Regions from separate parts of the Homo sapiens genome. Here region 1 is linked to region 2. The links come from fine-mapping of genetic effects on gene expression. A gene starts in region 2. The other region holds a variant in brackets. All regions are shown on one strand. Distances are from middle to middle.

Region 1 (8,333 bases), 190 kb before region 2:
TCAAGGCCTATACAATTTACATAAAAATCATTGTCATTAGAAAAGTTTCTGTCCCACTGTTAAGACAGTGTTTGTGCAATGTGAGGTTACTTCCTGCTTCCACAATATGACTGTGCTTTACTAAACAAACTTCTGAGCTAAGATGTTTACTTGACTGGGAAATGACTACTAATAAGCTGTTAAAGGATGTATCCTCAAGTTACTACTTGTGGCATTTGTAACACGCTCCCTGTTGAACAAAGGTGTCACAGTAGCACAGTGAATAAACAATCCTTTTTTCTCCCTGTAAGTTATACGATATTAAATGTTAATAATTAATTTGTCTTTGTGGATTAACATACAAGAGCTTTTCAAACAGGTACTGGTGCAACCCCACCCTTGTGAGATGGCTAATCATTTCACATACTTCACACTTACCCAGCTATCAGTATCACTGACCTCAGCTAGCAAAGTGTGAAACGGCAGATGGTTTGTAGTGTTCAGTAATGTCCTATGAAAATGTAGCACAGAAAACTGCAAAAGGTTTTGGGAGAGAATGGTGGTTTATATGAACTTTTCAAGAAACTCAAGAGAAACAAAATGCCACCACTGTCCACGTCAAAGGATCTGGTGAGGATCCTGGGAGAAAAATGTCAAGAGATTCTAAGGCTTTCAGTAGCACAATATTTTCAAAGTGCTTCAGAAGTTATTTCAATCTGCTGCATTGCTAAAGGGGAACAGAGCCTGAAAAGCCAGTATAATTTTGAAGGCTGTTCAAGGACTATGTCAGCAACATTCTTACCCTGCATAAGACTTATACATCTTAAGACAGAAGATTTGTCTAGGGTATCCACAATCTGATTACATATTTCTCACGAGAACTACCCCAAAGTGCAAGCCCTTTGTGTTGTTCTACCTGAGATGACATGACTTCAGCCTCAAAATACCCAGGCTGAACTGTTTCTGGAGCAATGAGATGTTGTTAATGAATATCAACACTTCCCAGATCCTTTAAAAATGCTAATATCAAAATATTTTACAAGAGTGAATTTCAAACTGTGTTCATGTTTTTCACAGCACGGCACCTGTTTGAAATGGTACAGTTTGAACATCTATAAAACATGAGATGGAAGATACCAAGGTGGCTTGAGAGTTTTTAAACTATATATATATTTTTTTTTTTTGAGACAGAGTCTTGCTCTTGTTGCTCAGGCTGGAGTGTAATGGCGCGATCTCGGCTCACTGCAACCTCCGCCTCCCAAGTTCAAGCAATTCTCCTGCCTCAGCCTCCCGAGTAGCTGGGGTTACAGGCACCTGCCACCACGCCCAGCTAATTTTTTGTGTTTTTAGTAGAGATTCGGTTTCACAATGTTGGCCAGGCTGGTCTTGAACTCCTGACCTCAGGTGATCCACCCACCTCAGCCTCCCAAAGTGCTGGGATTACAGGAGTGAGCCACTGTGCCCAGTCAAGAACTATATTCTTGAGAGCAAAATAGAGTATATTATACTTAGAATGGAACTATGTAAACCTTTACACATCTGTATTTTCAAAACAAGAACCCAGAGCTGTTCAAGTGATAAACAAAATCATCAGGTGGCTTGTTTAGAGTTTCAAAACAGACCCTTCTATTCCTGCTGTTTCTCCCTCTGGTTTCATTAAATATAAAACAAATGAAAATGACCAGTTCAATAGGGATATCTGACAGAATTTGGGGAGAAACATTTCATTAGCTTTCTATGAAGTCCAATACCTGTAATTTTATGTATCAGGACTCTCTGATTTGAAGTCCCTACAGAAATGCTTTATTCTTAGTCCATTTAGCTGCCCTTAAAATGTTTATTTTTTCTCTTTCTCTCTCTCTCTCTCTCTCTCTCTCACAGGAACATCCAAACTGTGTTGTCACAGTGTATAAAACAGAGGCATATTCCTTTCAGGTTATACTATACCCTGACTCCTTGATGAAATGATTTGATGTGGTTCACAAATCAGAATCAGACAGAATGAAATCATTACACCTTATATAGCTTAAAAACAAAAAAGCCAGACATAAAGTGGACAGGAAATCAGTCATAATGAAAAACTATTTCAAGTCACACATTTGCTGATTTAGTGTCTATTTGCTGAGCATTTGTATCACTATGTGCTAGGTGCTGCTGGGTCTGTGACAATGAACAGGAAAGGCTGTGTGGCAACTCAACACGAAAGCCAGCTGAGCCTCCTAGTAACCAAAACAAAAAGAGAAACATCACACAGTTTCAAAAGGGAGGTTACTGGCTTATCAAGAGAGAAAAAAAATGTCTTGGTAAGAAGCTACGGAGAAACATAAGGAATAGGTCAATGTGTAGATAAGAGATACTAATCATAATATTAACATATAGATATTTATGTACCTATGTAAGACTTTCTCTTCCACTAAAACAGATGAAGTAATTTATAATCTTTTGAATTAAGCAATCAATAGAATAATATCTGCAGAAACTCTTATCTTTCTGGACTGTTTAAAGGTACAAATCTAGAACCAAAGTCGCATATGTGATTTAAAACAAGCAGAAAATACATATTGGCAAAGGGCTTTCTTACATGAGGTATTACTGCTCTAGAAAATTGTCTACATTAATTTATAACTGTAAAAGGATCTCTGGCAATTACATTTATCCTATTCTCTTATTTTTCAGGTGTCTTTTGGGGATACATGTTATAAATCTTTTTTATTTCTCTATATAACCCTTCTTTCTTTTGGGTAACCTGATAGTAATAACTAAGCCACAGGTGAAAGGTTTCTCAAGGTGTGGCTATTGTGTTCTCTTGACTAACTTCTACCTGCACTGTTTCCTTTTTACAGGGTGGCTCTTATGTGACTAATCTAGGCCACAATATATTATTTTTTTTAAGTTAGGTAAAAGTAAATGTCTCCAGACCTTTAACTATATAGTACTTTATTTGCTAAATTATGCAAATCAATATACCCTAAATCAAATACATACCTCCTCTAAAGAGAGTTCCCCTTGGTTTTGAAACTCACTTTAACAAGCTATCAATCAGAGGCTGATATTTAGAGGTAGCATAACTGATTGGTAGCAGTGGGATTTCTGGCCATTTTTAGTGATAACCACCGAAATACATGAGCAGGGTTTTTAAACCCTAGGAAGGAAAAAGCCTGACCAAAAACCCTGACAGATATATAATGCCATGATAGAAATGCTACTCATTATGTCATACCTAATAATCCACATGTACCTCATTACTCAGCTGTTTGTGTTACACCCTGTTGCCAAAGGAAGCTCCCTGCTTCTCCTCCTGATCCAGCAATTAATATGCATATCAGGCACAGTGGCCAGACTTCTACGGAGAAAGAGGAGGCAGGCAAGAGATCCATAGTCATAAAGACCTAGGCGAGTAATATTCTCAGCATTATTCAGGAATGTTTAGTTGCTTGCTCAAATTTATCATTAACAAAGGGCCTATTTCCCAAAGGCTTCCACTGTGTAATTAGCAACAACAAA[T/C]ACTGCCCCTACTCCGGTTAACCTATGGGATTAGTTACAAAGGTTTTGTAAATTTCAGAAGATATCTACACAGATGTCGGGAGAGCACACACGCAAACACACAGTGCAGCATAATGGATGCAGCCATAGCCATTAAGTAGTTTAGGATTTGTGAGACTCAGACAACGAATACATTTTATGGGGGAAGTCATAAAAGTCAGACAGGAAAAAATATACAGCATGAAAGTTGAAAACTTCTAGACAGCATGTAAAAAGTACGGAGAAGTAGCAGGGGCAAAGGAAGAAACGTACCAAGTGGAGCTCATTGGTCTTAATAAATAGGACAAGGTCACCTGAGTTTACTTCTGGAACCAATAGAAATCCTGTAGTATCTAATTATTTTTGTAAAATGATTATTTTCATGCTTCTATTTACCATTGTCATTAGATAGGTTCATATTTCATTAGTCTGCTTACTAAAATGAAACTTTTCGTTTTATTTATGGAAGTTTTTATACTTCTCTAAGCCTGCTCCAAAAACATACAATTAAGCACTGCTAACCTGTTGATCAGGAAAGTATACTATACCAAAAGAGATGCAAAGACATGTTAACCATTCATACTGATTGAAAGGGCTCAATTTAAGAAAGTAATTTTAATTTAGATTAAAAAATAATCTGTAAATGACAGAGTCTGGAATGACATTATGAATAAAAATTAAGGCTAATGACCTTATCTTAACCATAAATTACTTTAGTTTGTAGAGATTTGTTCACACTTGGTAAGCAGCACTGTTCATTTCTTATGATGGGTATTCGTGTTTAAACAAGTTGGCAATTTTCAATTCAGAAGTCAAAATACTGTCTTAGTTGCCAACAAAAATAATTAATGAAACACTTCTAACCCCAGGGGTAAATATGTAAGCAAGTGCATGGTAATGGATAATAAAAATAGCACTTCCTTTTACATATGGTGCTAATTAAAATCTGATCAGAGTAATAATTGAGCAGTGCCCAGGCTACCCTTGATTTTTCTTGTCAGGTTTCAATTGTTTGACACAAATGCACTGACCTCAATAAATGAAAACACATTTAAAAAAAAAAAACAACCTAAATTATAGCTATCCTTATTCAGGCCAACAAGTGATTTACTGTCGCTGTGGGTTTTGAGGTTACTCGAGACATGGAAGTTTTCTAGGGAGCCACTCATTGCCACTGGTGTTCATGAACAAGAAGGCACCAGAAAGTCCATGAGACTTTCATTCAGAGGTTTTTCCCCACTGAATACACAACTCCCTCCCTATGCAAATTCCAATTAAAACAAAAGAATAATATATTACCTAACCAGGGGTTGAATGAGTGTGTGACAGGCATTTTGCTAAGAGCTTTCCAGGTATTATCTCAAGTCTTCACAACATCCTGATGAAAAAGAATCATTACTGGTCCCATCACACTGACAAACTGAGTCTCAGACTCTGGCTCCAGAGCTCATGGTCTTAATTTGCTACACTATCTTAAAGTAATGGAAAAAATGCACACCAGTATATTTTAAAAAACTAAAAAAGGAAAGAAGATTCTGAGTACAATACTCGTACTCTCCGAAATTACCCTTTTTCAAAAAGAAAGATTAAATACCAAAACTCAATTGAAATCATACTGATTTAATTCTACAATGTGATGTCTAAAACCTCTAAGTACCTGCTTATATAAGTAAAAACAAGTCATGAGAAAATAAGAATAATACATATTTCCATGTCCCAAGTGCCCCACCAATATGCTTCATATTCACAAAGCTCTAGTTAAAATGGGAAAAGCCAACAGATTACTATTTTAATATGAATGCTTAATGAAATATATACTAATACTCACATTCAATTTTTCCATAAATCAATGTATTGCTAAAACAGTATACACTTTTATCCACTCAATAGTCATTACTTTTATTTAAAATTAAATTCAACTGTATTTTGTATCTACCTACAACTTCTTGCCCTGTGAAGGGGTACAAAGATGTATCAAAGATGCTCTCTGCTTCTAAGAAATTGTTTATTAACTGGCACAAGAAATAGCATCAACTATAATATCTGGTAGAGTGTAAAAAAGGGTAGAGTTCAAGTTCCTAAAAATGTTAATGCGCCAGGCTATACGTAAAGCGCTGGCCTAGGCACTATATGGATCAAGACTAAAGACACAGGCACTGTCCTCAGGAGCATTCTAGTGGAGAGGGGAGGTATCCAATACACCAATTACGTGAATACCTGGCTTCCTTTCTTAAGTGTATAAAAAGCAAATAAAGCCTTAAAGACTGCTTCACAGAGCTCTCCATGAGCAGGGCTGGGGATACACAGAAGCCAGGGAAAACAGATACAAGACTCTTGCAGTCAGCGGTCCCAGAAAGACAAAATGAGGGCTTGTCCAAAGGCCTTGTACTGGGAGTGAAGGCAAGTGGAAGGAACGAGCAATGGGGACAAACAGGTCTCAAAGGGTGGGTGACTGCCTAGAAATGAGCAGAAGGAGAACTTGGAAATAACAGGTCTGAACAAAGAGACAGCTTTATATGACAGAATAAATAAGAAGTATGTTAGGTAGACAAGAGAAATAGATGTGGTCACTGACTTGTGGAGCCTGAGGAGCTGGCAGGGGACATTCAGCATAAATTTACTGAGCTCCTATTACATAGCAGGCACTGTTCTAGGATCCAGAGGTACAAGAGTGAACAAAACAAACTAAGAGGTGTGCAGCAAGCAACAGGGTAAAGTTAGACTCTCCTGCTGACAGGCAAAAGCCAGAAATACAGACTGAGAAGTGTCAACTGCAAATGAGAAAAACCCTCGGTTCTCCTGTATTCAGGAGAGTTTCAAGAAGAGAGAAGAGAGGCTACAACACTGAATACAGGAGTGAGTTGGGGAAACAATCTGGCTGGATGAGAACTGAACTTAACCGATTTGACATTTCTGTGACTGTTGAGATGGCCTTCTCCATCGCACTGGGCCAGGATCCAGCAGGAGGAGATCACAGCAAGTGTGCCTTTGAGAAGTTTGTTATTAAAATGAAATAAAGGATGGTATTTTGATACATAGTTCTCTGAGAATACAGAGAAAGTAGTGATTCATTCTGACCAGGAGATCTGGGAATGCTGATGGTTGGCAGTGAGGATGTCCTCTGTTTTTGAACAATAAATGCAGGAAAAGAAACTGAAAAGAATGCCAGGTATGGTGGCTCATGCCTGTAATCCCAGCACTTTCGGAGGCCAAGGTGGGTGGATCACAAGGTCAGAGTTAGAGACCAGCCTGGCCAACATGGTGAAACCGTGTCTCTGCTAAAGATAACACAAATTAGTTGGGTGTGGTGGCACACACCTGTAATCCCTGCTACTCAGGATGCTGAAGTAGGAGAATCACTTGAACCCGGGAGGCAGAGGTTGCAGTGAGCTGAGATCACCCCATTGCACTGCAGCCTGGGTGGTAGAGCGAGACTCCATCTCAAAAAAAAAAAAAAGAAAAGAAATGGAAAAGGGATGATAGAGAGTCAGGGTTACAATAAGGTCTCATTACAATACAGCTTTAAACATTAGAAAACAAACACTGTCTTGTGTAATCATACACTTCTAAGTTAGACATATTTCTGAACAAGATAAAATGTGCTACATAAAAATAAATGCTGGCTGGGCGTAGTGGCTCATGCCTATAATCCCAGCACTTTGGGATGCTGAGGCAGGTGGATCACTTGAGGTCAGGAGTTTAAGACCAGCCTGGGCAACATAGGGAAACCCTTACTAAAAATACAAAAAATTAGCCAGGTGTGGTAGCATGCGCCTGTGGTCCCAGTTATTGGAGAGGTTGAGGTGGGAAAATCACTTAAGCCTGGGAGACAGAGGTTGCAGTGAGCCGAGGTCGTGCCACTGTACTCCAGCCTGGGTGACAAAATGAGTTGATCTTGTCTCAAAAAAAAAAAAAATGCTATTTTTGTTTAAATTAGGCAAATATACTTATCTGTTATTTAAGACTAAAAACCTGATTTCTTGGTCCTCCATCTAGAAAATAGTCTGTTTTAAGACAAGGAAATAGTTCTTGTTTAAACTAGAGAATGAGAAGTCTGTCAGACACATGGCCCCACTCTTGCTCCAAGTCCTTCTCACCTATTCTCAGATAAGACCCAGATCTTGGGAAACAAATTAAGGGCGCATCTGCTGGATTGGACCTAGCTGCACTGGGAGTTGCCAGAGTGCTCTGAGCAGCATCAGGAATTCCTCTGGGCCTTGTCGTGATATCATTTGCGCAATGTAGCCTGTGATGGCAGAAAATTAAGCTGGTATTTATACAGGGTATTAGAGAAGGACCCTCCCTGCACCAGGCTTAAAGTGACAAAATGTCAGCCTCAATCATCCCACAGGCTTTGGTCTCCCTCTGTAACCTCTTTCTTTTTGGCTGCTCTCTCTCTCTCTCTCTGTCTCTCTCTCTGTCTCTGTCTCTCTCTCTCTCTCTCTCTCTCTCTCTCTCTCTCTCTATATATATATATATATATATATACATACATATATACACATACACACACACACACATACATATGACACTAACAGAAAAATAAATTGAAAAGAGCACTGAGGCAGAGTGTATTTCACGCACTGGTGCCAATGTTTCATATCTCATGAACCTCGGGAAAACAATTCGTAGAACTAATTAGTTTACAGTGTTTAAGCAGCTTGTTCCTCGTCTTTAATCTTCTTTATGTAATAGTGTGAACAAAGCCATATTATCTTCTGATTTTTTTATACAGTTTAACAAATATAATCTCCCTTTTCTTTCCAGAGATTACTTCATTTAGACATCAAACTATGTTGTTGTTGTTTTTTTCCCCTGGGGAGAGGGGATAT
Region 2 (8,333 bases):
AACAGTGAATTTATAAAATTTACTAAACCCGTGGAAATTTTCTGAAATATTTTCTTACTATTGTTTGTGGAAAACTGTTAGTTTTTATTTTTAAAATACTTATTTGGCATGTGGCCTCTTATATCCAAGTTGACTTTTCTTAATGCATCAAAAGAGCAACATCTTATTCAACACTTCAGAGATAAAACTGCCTACTTTTAAAATATTGTTTTTAAAGTAAGTTTTTAACTGTGATAACATACCAAGATAAATGTGTCCATAAATTCCTAAGAATAATAAGTGTTAGGGCTGTATCTCTTGGGGTTAAGAGGGGTACATCATTCTTTCTTTTGGCCATTATCAAACTGATAATGATCAAATAGAAAGGTAATTCTACAAACCTGAAGTTAGAATACCGATTTAGAAATACTCTTGGTATTTTAAAATTCTGCAGATTAACTTTGTCTGGGCAGGTTCAAAGCCTCCATGGCATCCTGAGCAGAAGAGTTTTCTGCAGGCAGGGCAGATCTATTAAAAAACATGACCTGTGACAAAAATCAATGTGCTAATCTCAAACCAAACAACAGTATCAAAAGCACAAAACAGAGATAACCTAAGATAAAATGTCCTCAAACTAACTCAGACTAGCTTGACAGGTTAAGAAGGGGGGTTAAAGTAGGGGTGTTGCTGGTTCTTTCCGTTTTAACCCAGGAAGACTGGAACACCCAAGTATCCAAATAAATGAATGCCATGAGAAAAAGATCACAATGTGGAGCTTGGTGTGGGAAAGAAAAGACAACCGAGAGCAAGATATCCCAAATTCAAAGAAACTATTTCAGTGTTGCTTTATTTAATAAGGTGCTAAAGTTCAGAGATACAAATTTCTGCTTCGTATATGCTGCCTAATAAAGCACAAACGGGGAAAAAAAACTAACCAACATAATGAGACTGGCTTTTAACACCATCACAACTGGAAAGCTTGCTCTATTTGTCTTGTCAGCTTTAATAAAAGGCATCTCTCCTCTGGCAGGATGGCTTCTTTTTCTCTTTTCCTAATAGTGGTAAGTGGCATGTCAAAGAAGAAATCGCTTCCCATTCCACCACCCACCTCCAGGAGACTCTTGTTTTTTGAACCAAACTTTCAGGAATATCTCCACTCCTGTTCAGCGGTTCATTTAGGACTTGGGCGGCTACCTGAGTAAGACTATCTTGGACTAGCGGGATAGGGGGAACTCCCTCCTGGTTCTGTAACCGGCGGACTGCTTGTGGGGAAATCTTCCCATCTTCATCTGCGCTGACATTATTCAAGCAGGGAATCCCTCTCTTGCCTGCATGCTGAGGGGAGGCTGGAGGCAGGCGGAGAGGGCCCGCAGGAGATAGAAAAAACTGGAGGCGCCCACCGATACCCTCTCTCCTGGAGCCCGGGGCGCGCACCAACTCTTAGGCTAACCCCTCGGCCTCCCGCCTCTCTCTTCCCAACTTCCACTCCAGCCCAGTGAAAAACCTGTGACTTTAGATGCAATCGGTACTATTAATAAATAGCACCTAGGAGGGCACCGAGACCGGCACACAGCTGGAAGCTAGCCTCTGTCCCAGAGAAAGCAGTGCGGTATGGGCCTAGCGGGGCCGACTTCTGTGCACAGGCCGGGAAGCAATAAAGGTTCGGAACTGCTCCAGACCCGGAGGACCCCGCCGGGCACTCTGGATAACCTCCCCACTCCACTTCCAGGGTCCGAAAACACGGGACGTCTGCGACTGGCCGGTGTCCAGCACGCGCACTAGGACCGCCCCCGGCGCCCACCTCTAGTCTCCCGCATACCCGGCGGGCTTCGGGACGCCTACAAATCGGTTCCAGGTAATCGCGCGCGTTCCTCCGGCAGCACATCGCCAGGCCGCGGGCGAAGGGCTCCCACCTCCTGGCTCGGCCAACTCTGGCAGCTTGTTCTGCACACATGACGTAACCCGGCATTAGATCAAACTTTCTGGCACCTTGAACCCACTGGGGTGGGTGGAGGGATGGAGAAGATGGGAGAATCCTCTCCACTGCCAGGCGCGCCGGGCCCAGACTGACTCAGGGGCCGAATGATTTCCTCGCAGTTGAAGAGGAAAATAAAAACCTAAAGCTTCCGCTTCCCAGCCCCCCTCACTTCCCCCAGCCCGTGCGCTCTCTCTGCGCGCACCGGGAAAAGAGAAGGGAAAATTAAAATTAAAAAAAAAAAAAAAAAAAAAAAAACTTTGGGGGATGTTTGGCGGGTTCTCTCCGCAGTCCCTGCGGACCCACGCTCCAGGAAGGAGCTCCCGGCTGCGCACACTGGGGGCTCCCCGCGCCGGGAACCGGATGCCAGCCAGATGCCGGGGCTGGGAAGCAGAGAAGTCCCTACTCCCCGGCTCCCGCCCTTTTCCGAGTCTCCCGGCGCCCCGCAGAAGCAGTTGGTCTAGGCAGCCCCGGGGACTCCCAGGGGTACCTGGCCTTTCCGCGGCGGCTTAACAAAGAGGGGCGCGACGCGAGCGCTTCCCGCCGACGCCTCAAGCCATCAGCGCCCGGGCGACGCAGGCTCCGAGGGTGCGCGCCGCCAGCGGTTGGTGCGCGCCGATCCCCGCCGCCGCTCCTTCCGCAGGGCCCCGAGGCCCGGGTAGCCCTGGCTCTCCGCCTGTTATCGGCTTACCTGGGGTTGCTGCTGTTCCAGTAGACAGCGTAGCGGTCGGCGACGGCCTTGGAGCCCGGGTCCTGGCTGAACACACACATCCAGAGCACCAGAAACACCAGCGTCAACATCTCCACGTGCAACATCACGCCTGGCCAGCGGCGGAGCCCCCGACGCGCCACTCCGGGGAGAGAGCGGGGATCCGGAGGGAGGGAGGCAGGCAAAGGGACAGAGAGAGAGCGGGCGCCAAATAAATATGAATAAATAAAAATGAAAGTGGGCGAGAAAGGAAAGAGGCGCCCACCAAGCTGGGGAGGGGTAGGAGAGCGAGAAGAAAAGAAGGCGGTGGGATGGGGGGTGATAAAGACAAACTCGCACCCCCACTGGAGGGTTCAGGAGGAAAAAGGAATCACAAGATGGAGAGAAGCGTGCGTGTGTGTGGTGGCGGCGGCGAGGGCGGGGGAAGAGGTGCCAAGCTGTGTCTCGGGCGGCGGCGGCAGGCCGGTCACCCCGGGAGAGGGAGGTGCGCGCCGGGCCGGGCGGCTGCAGCGCGGGTCGGGGCAGGCGGCGGCGCGCGCTGCACAGTCACCGGGAGTTGCGCGCCGCAGCCGCGGGGAGACATACACCGGCCCGCCGGGCCCGGCTCAGCGTCGGCGCAGCAGGCTACGCACGGCTCCGCCACCGCCCGGGGCCCTCGCACTGCGCCACGCTTCGCTCCAAGTTACTTTGGCGGCCGGTGGGAAACTGCAGGAGAAGGGCGACGTGCTGATAGAGGGCTTCGCGCTTGTGGTCCCGGGAGTCTGAGAACCCCTTTCCTCAGCCTCCTCTGTGCCTTAGCGGGGCGACCCCCAGAAATCTCAGAGGAGTCGTAAGTGCTGCGGTACCGGGCGGTGCGCCGAGAAGGGTGGGGATCCGGAGCCGCAACCCAGCCTTGTCGGTGTCCTGGAACTGGTTAAGCGGCAGCTGCGCCGGCTTTCGAAGCGGTCTTGCCTCGAAAACCTCAAAGAAAAGTTTGGCTCTTCGCGTCTTCCGGCAGGTCCCCCAGCAGAGTCGGAACGCGGCGGTAGCGGAAGAGGGCACCCCGGGGGCTGGCCGAGCCTCGGGGATTTCTCGCGCGTGCTTTCCTTGGCTGGGTGTGGGTGCACCACAGTGAATGAAGAGCAGAGGTTAAGACCAGCCGGCCTGGCAGAGCTGGGATTCCTAAACCTGCAAGACGACGCCAACCCAACTGTTCGGCTGGAGAGCGGGAGGGGAAACAATCACTTTCAAATGGATCCCTCCAACTCCTGGATGGGCCGATGTCAGTCTCCGATCGCCTTCCGAGAGGGAGACTGAGCCCCCACACGCGGTGCCAAGAGCCCGGGGTGAGCTCTCAGAAGTGTCCCTGCGACTCCAGCGGGTCCAAGCCTAGCAACTTGTAGAGATGCATCAATCAGTTTGAAATGGGAAAAGAGGAAAAAAAAAAAGCGCACGAGCGAGTGGCACCTCCCCGATGACTACATCAGAAAACCTTCCCGATCCTCCCGCAGCTGCTCCTCTTTCCCTCCTTAGGCACAGCAGCAACAGAGGTGAAAACCACAAACCGAATCCTAAAACCCCTACCCAGGCGGGAAAATAAATAAACTTGAGTGCAGCAGCAGCAGCACGAGCAGCCCAGGAGGAATTGAAACGACTGGCAAGAAGTGGAAAGGGTTTTGTAAAAGTCAGTTTTGCAAAAGAGGGGGAAAAAAAGAGAGCGAGAGAAAAAATGCTTTATGGGAAAAAAAATCTCCTCGGGCACGCCCCCTCGTTAATGACTTGCGTGGAAAGCCGACAGCGGCGGCGACCCAGTGGCAGCAGCCTCAGCAGAGCGCGAGGCCGCACGCGTGAACGTGGACGTGGGCGGGGGGATGGGGCTCCGCCCGGGCGTGTTGCGCGGGACGCGGGACGGGCGGGCGGCGCGAGCGCGGGTGTGAGCTCCGGACGAAGCAGGGGGAGGTGCCGCCAGCCCGCGCCCAGCCAGCGCTGCTGCCGCTGCGGCCCGGGTCATGTGGACTGTCTTTTTTTTTTTTTTTTTTTTTTTCCTCCTTCCAAGCAGTTTACTTGGGAAGGGTGGGAGCGCGGTGGGGGGATAGCTGGAGCAACCAGTCAGGGAACGGCCTACTGTTTGCTTACAGATTGGGGGTTTTTCCTCTCTCTTTACTCCAACCGGATTGGTTTGCTCCACGAGAAAGAGGCGTTTTCCTAATCTCCCTTCCCCACGCCTCCTACCCCCTCCCCCGCCCCACCTTCTAGAAACCTGACTAATTGAATTACTGGGAGTGCCGAGGCGCCCTCTCCTGCGCCGGAGCCCGGCAGCCACGTGTAACCCTTTGGGTGCTGAATTCCGTCTGGGCTAAGGAATGATTTGACATCTTTTTACCTGGGAGTAGGGTCTTTCGATTTTAAAGGAACCTGTGCCCACCCTTTGGCTGGAGAGCCGGCATCTGTCTCTGGTGCCCCGCAGGTGACGGATGGGCTGGAACGGAGCCTCAGGGAGTGCGCGTTCCTGTCCATTCCACCCGCTCTCCACGCCGCACGCTGCCTGGCGCTGGGTTATCTGGAAGTCTGAGCACCCCTCCTGTGCCTTTCAGCCCTCCTCTTCCCACTTGGGATTTAAAGATTCTTGGGCAGGAAGCAAGTTTTCTTTAAAGTGATGCTCTGAAAACACGTTTTTAAAAATCAGGCAAATCACAGTTTAAAGTGATTACAATTCAGCGCGAACCTTCCACAGAGAGGAAATGAATGCGGCAGACGAGCCCTTCAGAAATAACCTCACACCTCTTCCATTTCAACCTTGAGGGTGATTTGCTGCCCACTCCCCAAAGAATAAACGCCTTTATCGAACCCGGTGCGGAAAGAAATGAGGGCCGGGGGCGGGGGCTGTGGGAAGAAAAGCAGTTCCTTTATTGTTGGAAAAGGCCCCTCGGTCCTGGACTTCAAGGGCAGGTTGCAAGCCTGGTCTTCAGCCGCCACTGAAGAGCGATCTCCTGGCAGCGAGACTGTCCCAGCGCCTCGGGACGCGTCCCCACTGTCGTCCAGCGCCCAGGAAGTGAGCCCGACGCCTGCTCTGCGGGGCCACAGGCCCCCGAGACCCGCCCTTAAGGGGTCCGCGGGCTCGGGAGCAGCGGTATTTTTTCTCATGTTCCCTAGGGAGTTTTCTGCCTTAGTGGGAAGGGCAGATCCCCAGGAGAAAAAAGGCAGTTTACTTTTGCTCCCACACCTGCCTGCACTCCTTTTTACTTATTAGCCCAATAAAATCAAATCTCACGTTCACCCTCCTGCGCTTTCCAGTCCTCAGACGGGATTTCCAGGCGCTTCAGAGCTGTTTAGAAGCGTCCAGACGCCCTCCAGTGGTGGGCCTGCAATCCGCACCCAGCAGGGGCATTGCCTGCCGCTCAGGCCGGGTTGAATTTGATGGGAAATCTAGGGCTATGACCAATAAAGACTCGAGAGGAAAAGAAACAGTTCATAGGGGCACGGAGGTACCTGGATGTTATGGGCTCTTGGCTAAAAGTTAAGTCGTTTTTCAATTACAGTAATATTTCCTATCTGAAAAGATCCTGAAATCGTCCTAGGAAAGTAACTTATATTTTGTGACTAGATACAAATTGCAATCTGTACAATAATGGACTTTACCACAAACCAACCATCTGCCTAATTATTAAAAATTGAAATTCAGAATGTCGACACAAATGCTCCTCCATCATCTGTATGTTTCACAAAGTTCCAGCAGTGAGAAAGAAGTGGGGAAAGAAGTGAGAGAACCAATGGATAAGCTTTTATTTTTCAAATCAAATTTTCAGTTAAAATGTTATTTGCTTTTTTCCCTGGTCTGTAATCTTGCTGATGTTCAAGTTCTTGGCCCATTTTAGGGTGTGTGTTTTTTCTGTTGCAGGAAAGATGGATTTGTTTCCTTAGCTTTTCTTATAGTGGCTCTAATAGGTGCTCATATGACAGAGACAGTTTTGCAGGAAATATTCTGGACCCTTTTAAGAGATATGTGTATCTTTAAAAAGAAAATTCACGACTCCTGTCTAGGGTAAAATGCTGATCCTCACTGAAGAGTCTTTTTAGTCAGGGAACTATCAGGTAACAGGGAGCTAGCAAGCTGGCTTCCTGTGGCATCAAAGCTGAAAAAAAGGTGAAGAAAAAGAAATGGTATCCACTCATTTCCCGTTTGAAACACATACAATAACCAAATGGGAAAATTCAATTATATCACAAAAATATGGATGTCCTTATATTTAAATATCTCTACTATTTAAAGTTTGAATAGTCCCATATTAAACAGAAAAAAAAGTATACATTGTCCTCTTCCATAAAGTGATTCATAAGATTGGAATAAGATGTTGAAATTCGCGGCTGTTCATAACATAACTCAAATGTCTATGTGAAACAATTCATAAACCTAAATCAAATGACTCTGGGATTATGTGCCTAAGTAATTATTGGTATGGAAGTTACTAGTCAGCAGGATGATAGATACAGTAAGTCCTTAATGTCAGGGATATGTTCTTGGAAATTGTGACTTTAAGCGAAGTGGCATATATAAGGAAAACAATTTCACCATAGGCTACTTGATACAAACAAGAGTTAAATTCCTATGCATATCTCCGGTCACAAAAACATCACCAAACTTCCAGATAAAGACCAAAACACTTCTAATGTTAAACATTGAAATAAATGTGAGCTAGACATACATTTGAGAAAGATTAATAAAAACAAGTAAGATCATGTAACCAATTTTTCCATTTCAGGATTGCAGGTGGCCGGAGTTCAGGGCTCAAGGAGGAAAGTAACCCTGGACAGGACACCCTTCTATCCTGGGGTGCACTCACACTCACACCCACACTCACGCATACTGAGAATATTTAGATATGTGCACAGCTTAGACACAACCTAGCGAGCACAGCTGTGGGTTGTAGGAGGAAACCAGAGTACCCGGAGAAAACCCACGCAGACATGAGGAGAATGTGCAAACTACTCACAGACAGTGGCCATGGCCTGGAATCGATTTTTTTTCTCATCACCATTATGACGAAGTGACGTTCAACCAAACAGCGTTGAGGACCTGCTGTACTTGAACAGAGTTTGAAGAGCTATATTATTAACTGTACACTTACCGTTAGATAATGTGACTTTGTCTCTTCAGGAAAGCATTCATGTGATTTAAATTTATACAAATCAACATTATATAAAATAATTTTATTATAATTCGCCCAGTGTCACAGAAGCAATGACTTTTAAACGACTTTAAATGCCCTTTAGAATGTAAGTATTTTGCCAGGTATAGGAGGAGGTGAACGTATAACAAAAAGAGAACAGCAAGAACCTAAAAACATGGGGACAAAAAAATGCAGACAGTGTTCAAACGCTTCGAGTTTGACAAGACAATGTTGTAGGGAGCTGAGACCTGAAAAAATAGGTTGGTAATGGACGATAAAAGGGCTTATCTGCAATTCTGTTTCCATTTAAAGCTATAGGCCACTGGGTGCGCTGGTGGGTTTAAAGCAAGTGCCATTGAAGCAATAATTTATATGCCCCAAATTAAAGCACAAATAGGAATTTATGCGTTTATTTAATTTTTGGGGCTTGAACTACCTTGATCAGTGTTCTAACCTTGGCTACAAATTAGAATCACCTAGGGAGCGTTAAAAAACAAACAAACAACAACAACAACAACAAAAC

The links. PIP is the estimated chance that this variant, and not a neighbour inherited with it, causes the effect.
Region 1: its variant is fine-mapped to the expression of EFNA5 in whole blood (INTERVAL, PIP 0.93).

The regions. Positions count from the first base shown.
Region 1 is chr5:107,474,906-107,483,238 of GRCh38, forward strand. All of the region lies in intron 1 of EFNA5 (ephrin A5), which reads right to left. Among named protein-coding and RNA genes, the nearest start is that of EFNA5, 190 kb to the right of the region's middle. The variant T/C (reference allele first, on the strand shown) is at 3,484.
Region 2 is chr5:107,667,844-107,676,176 of GRCh38, forward strand. EFNA5 (ephrin A5) reads right to left here and starts at 3,094. Exons shown (of 5, transcript NM_001962.3): 1 at 2,646-3,094. The coding sequence starts at 2,770. RefSeq lists enhancers at 2,247-2,326, 2,727-2,856, 3,567-3,706, 5,447-5,946, 5,848-5,897 and silencers at 2,487-2,556, 3,127-3,176, 4,537-4,606, 5,978-6,057.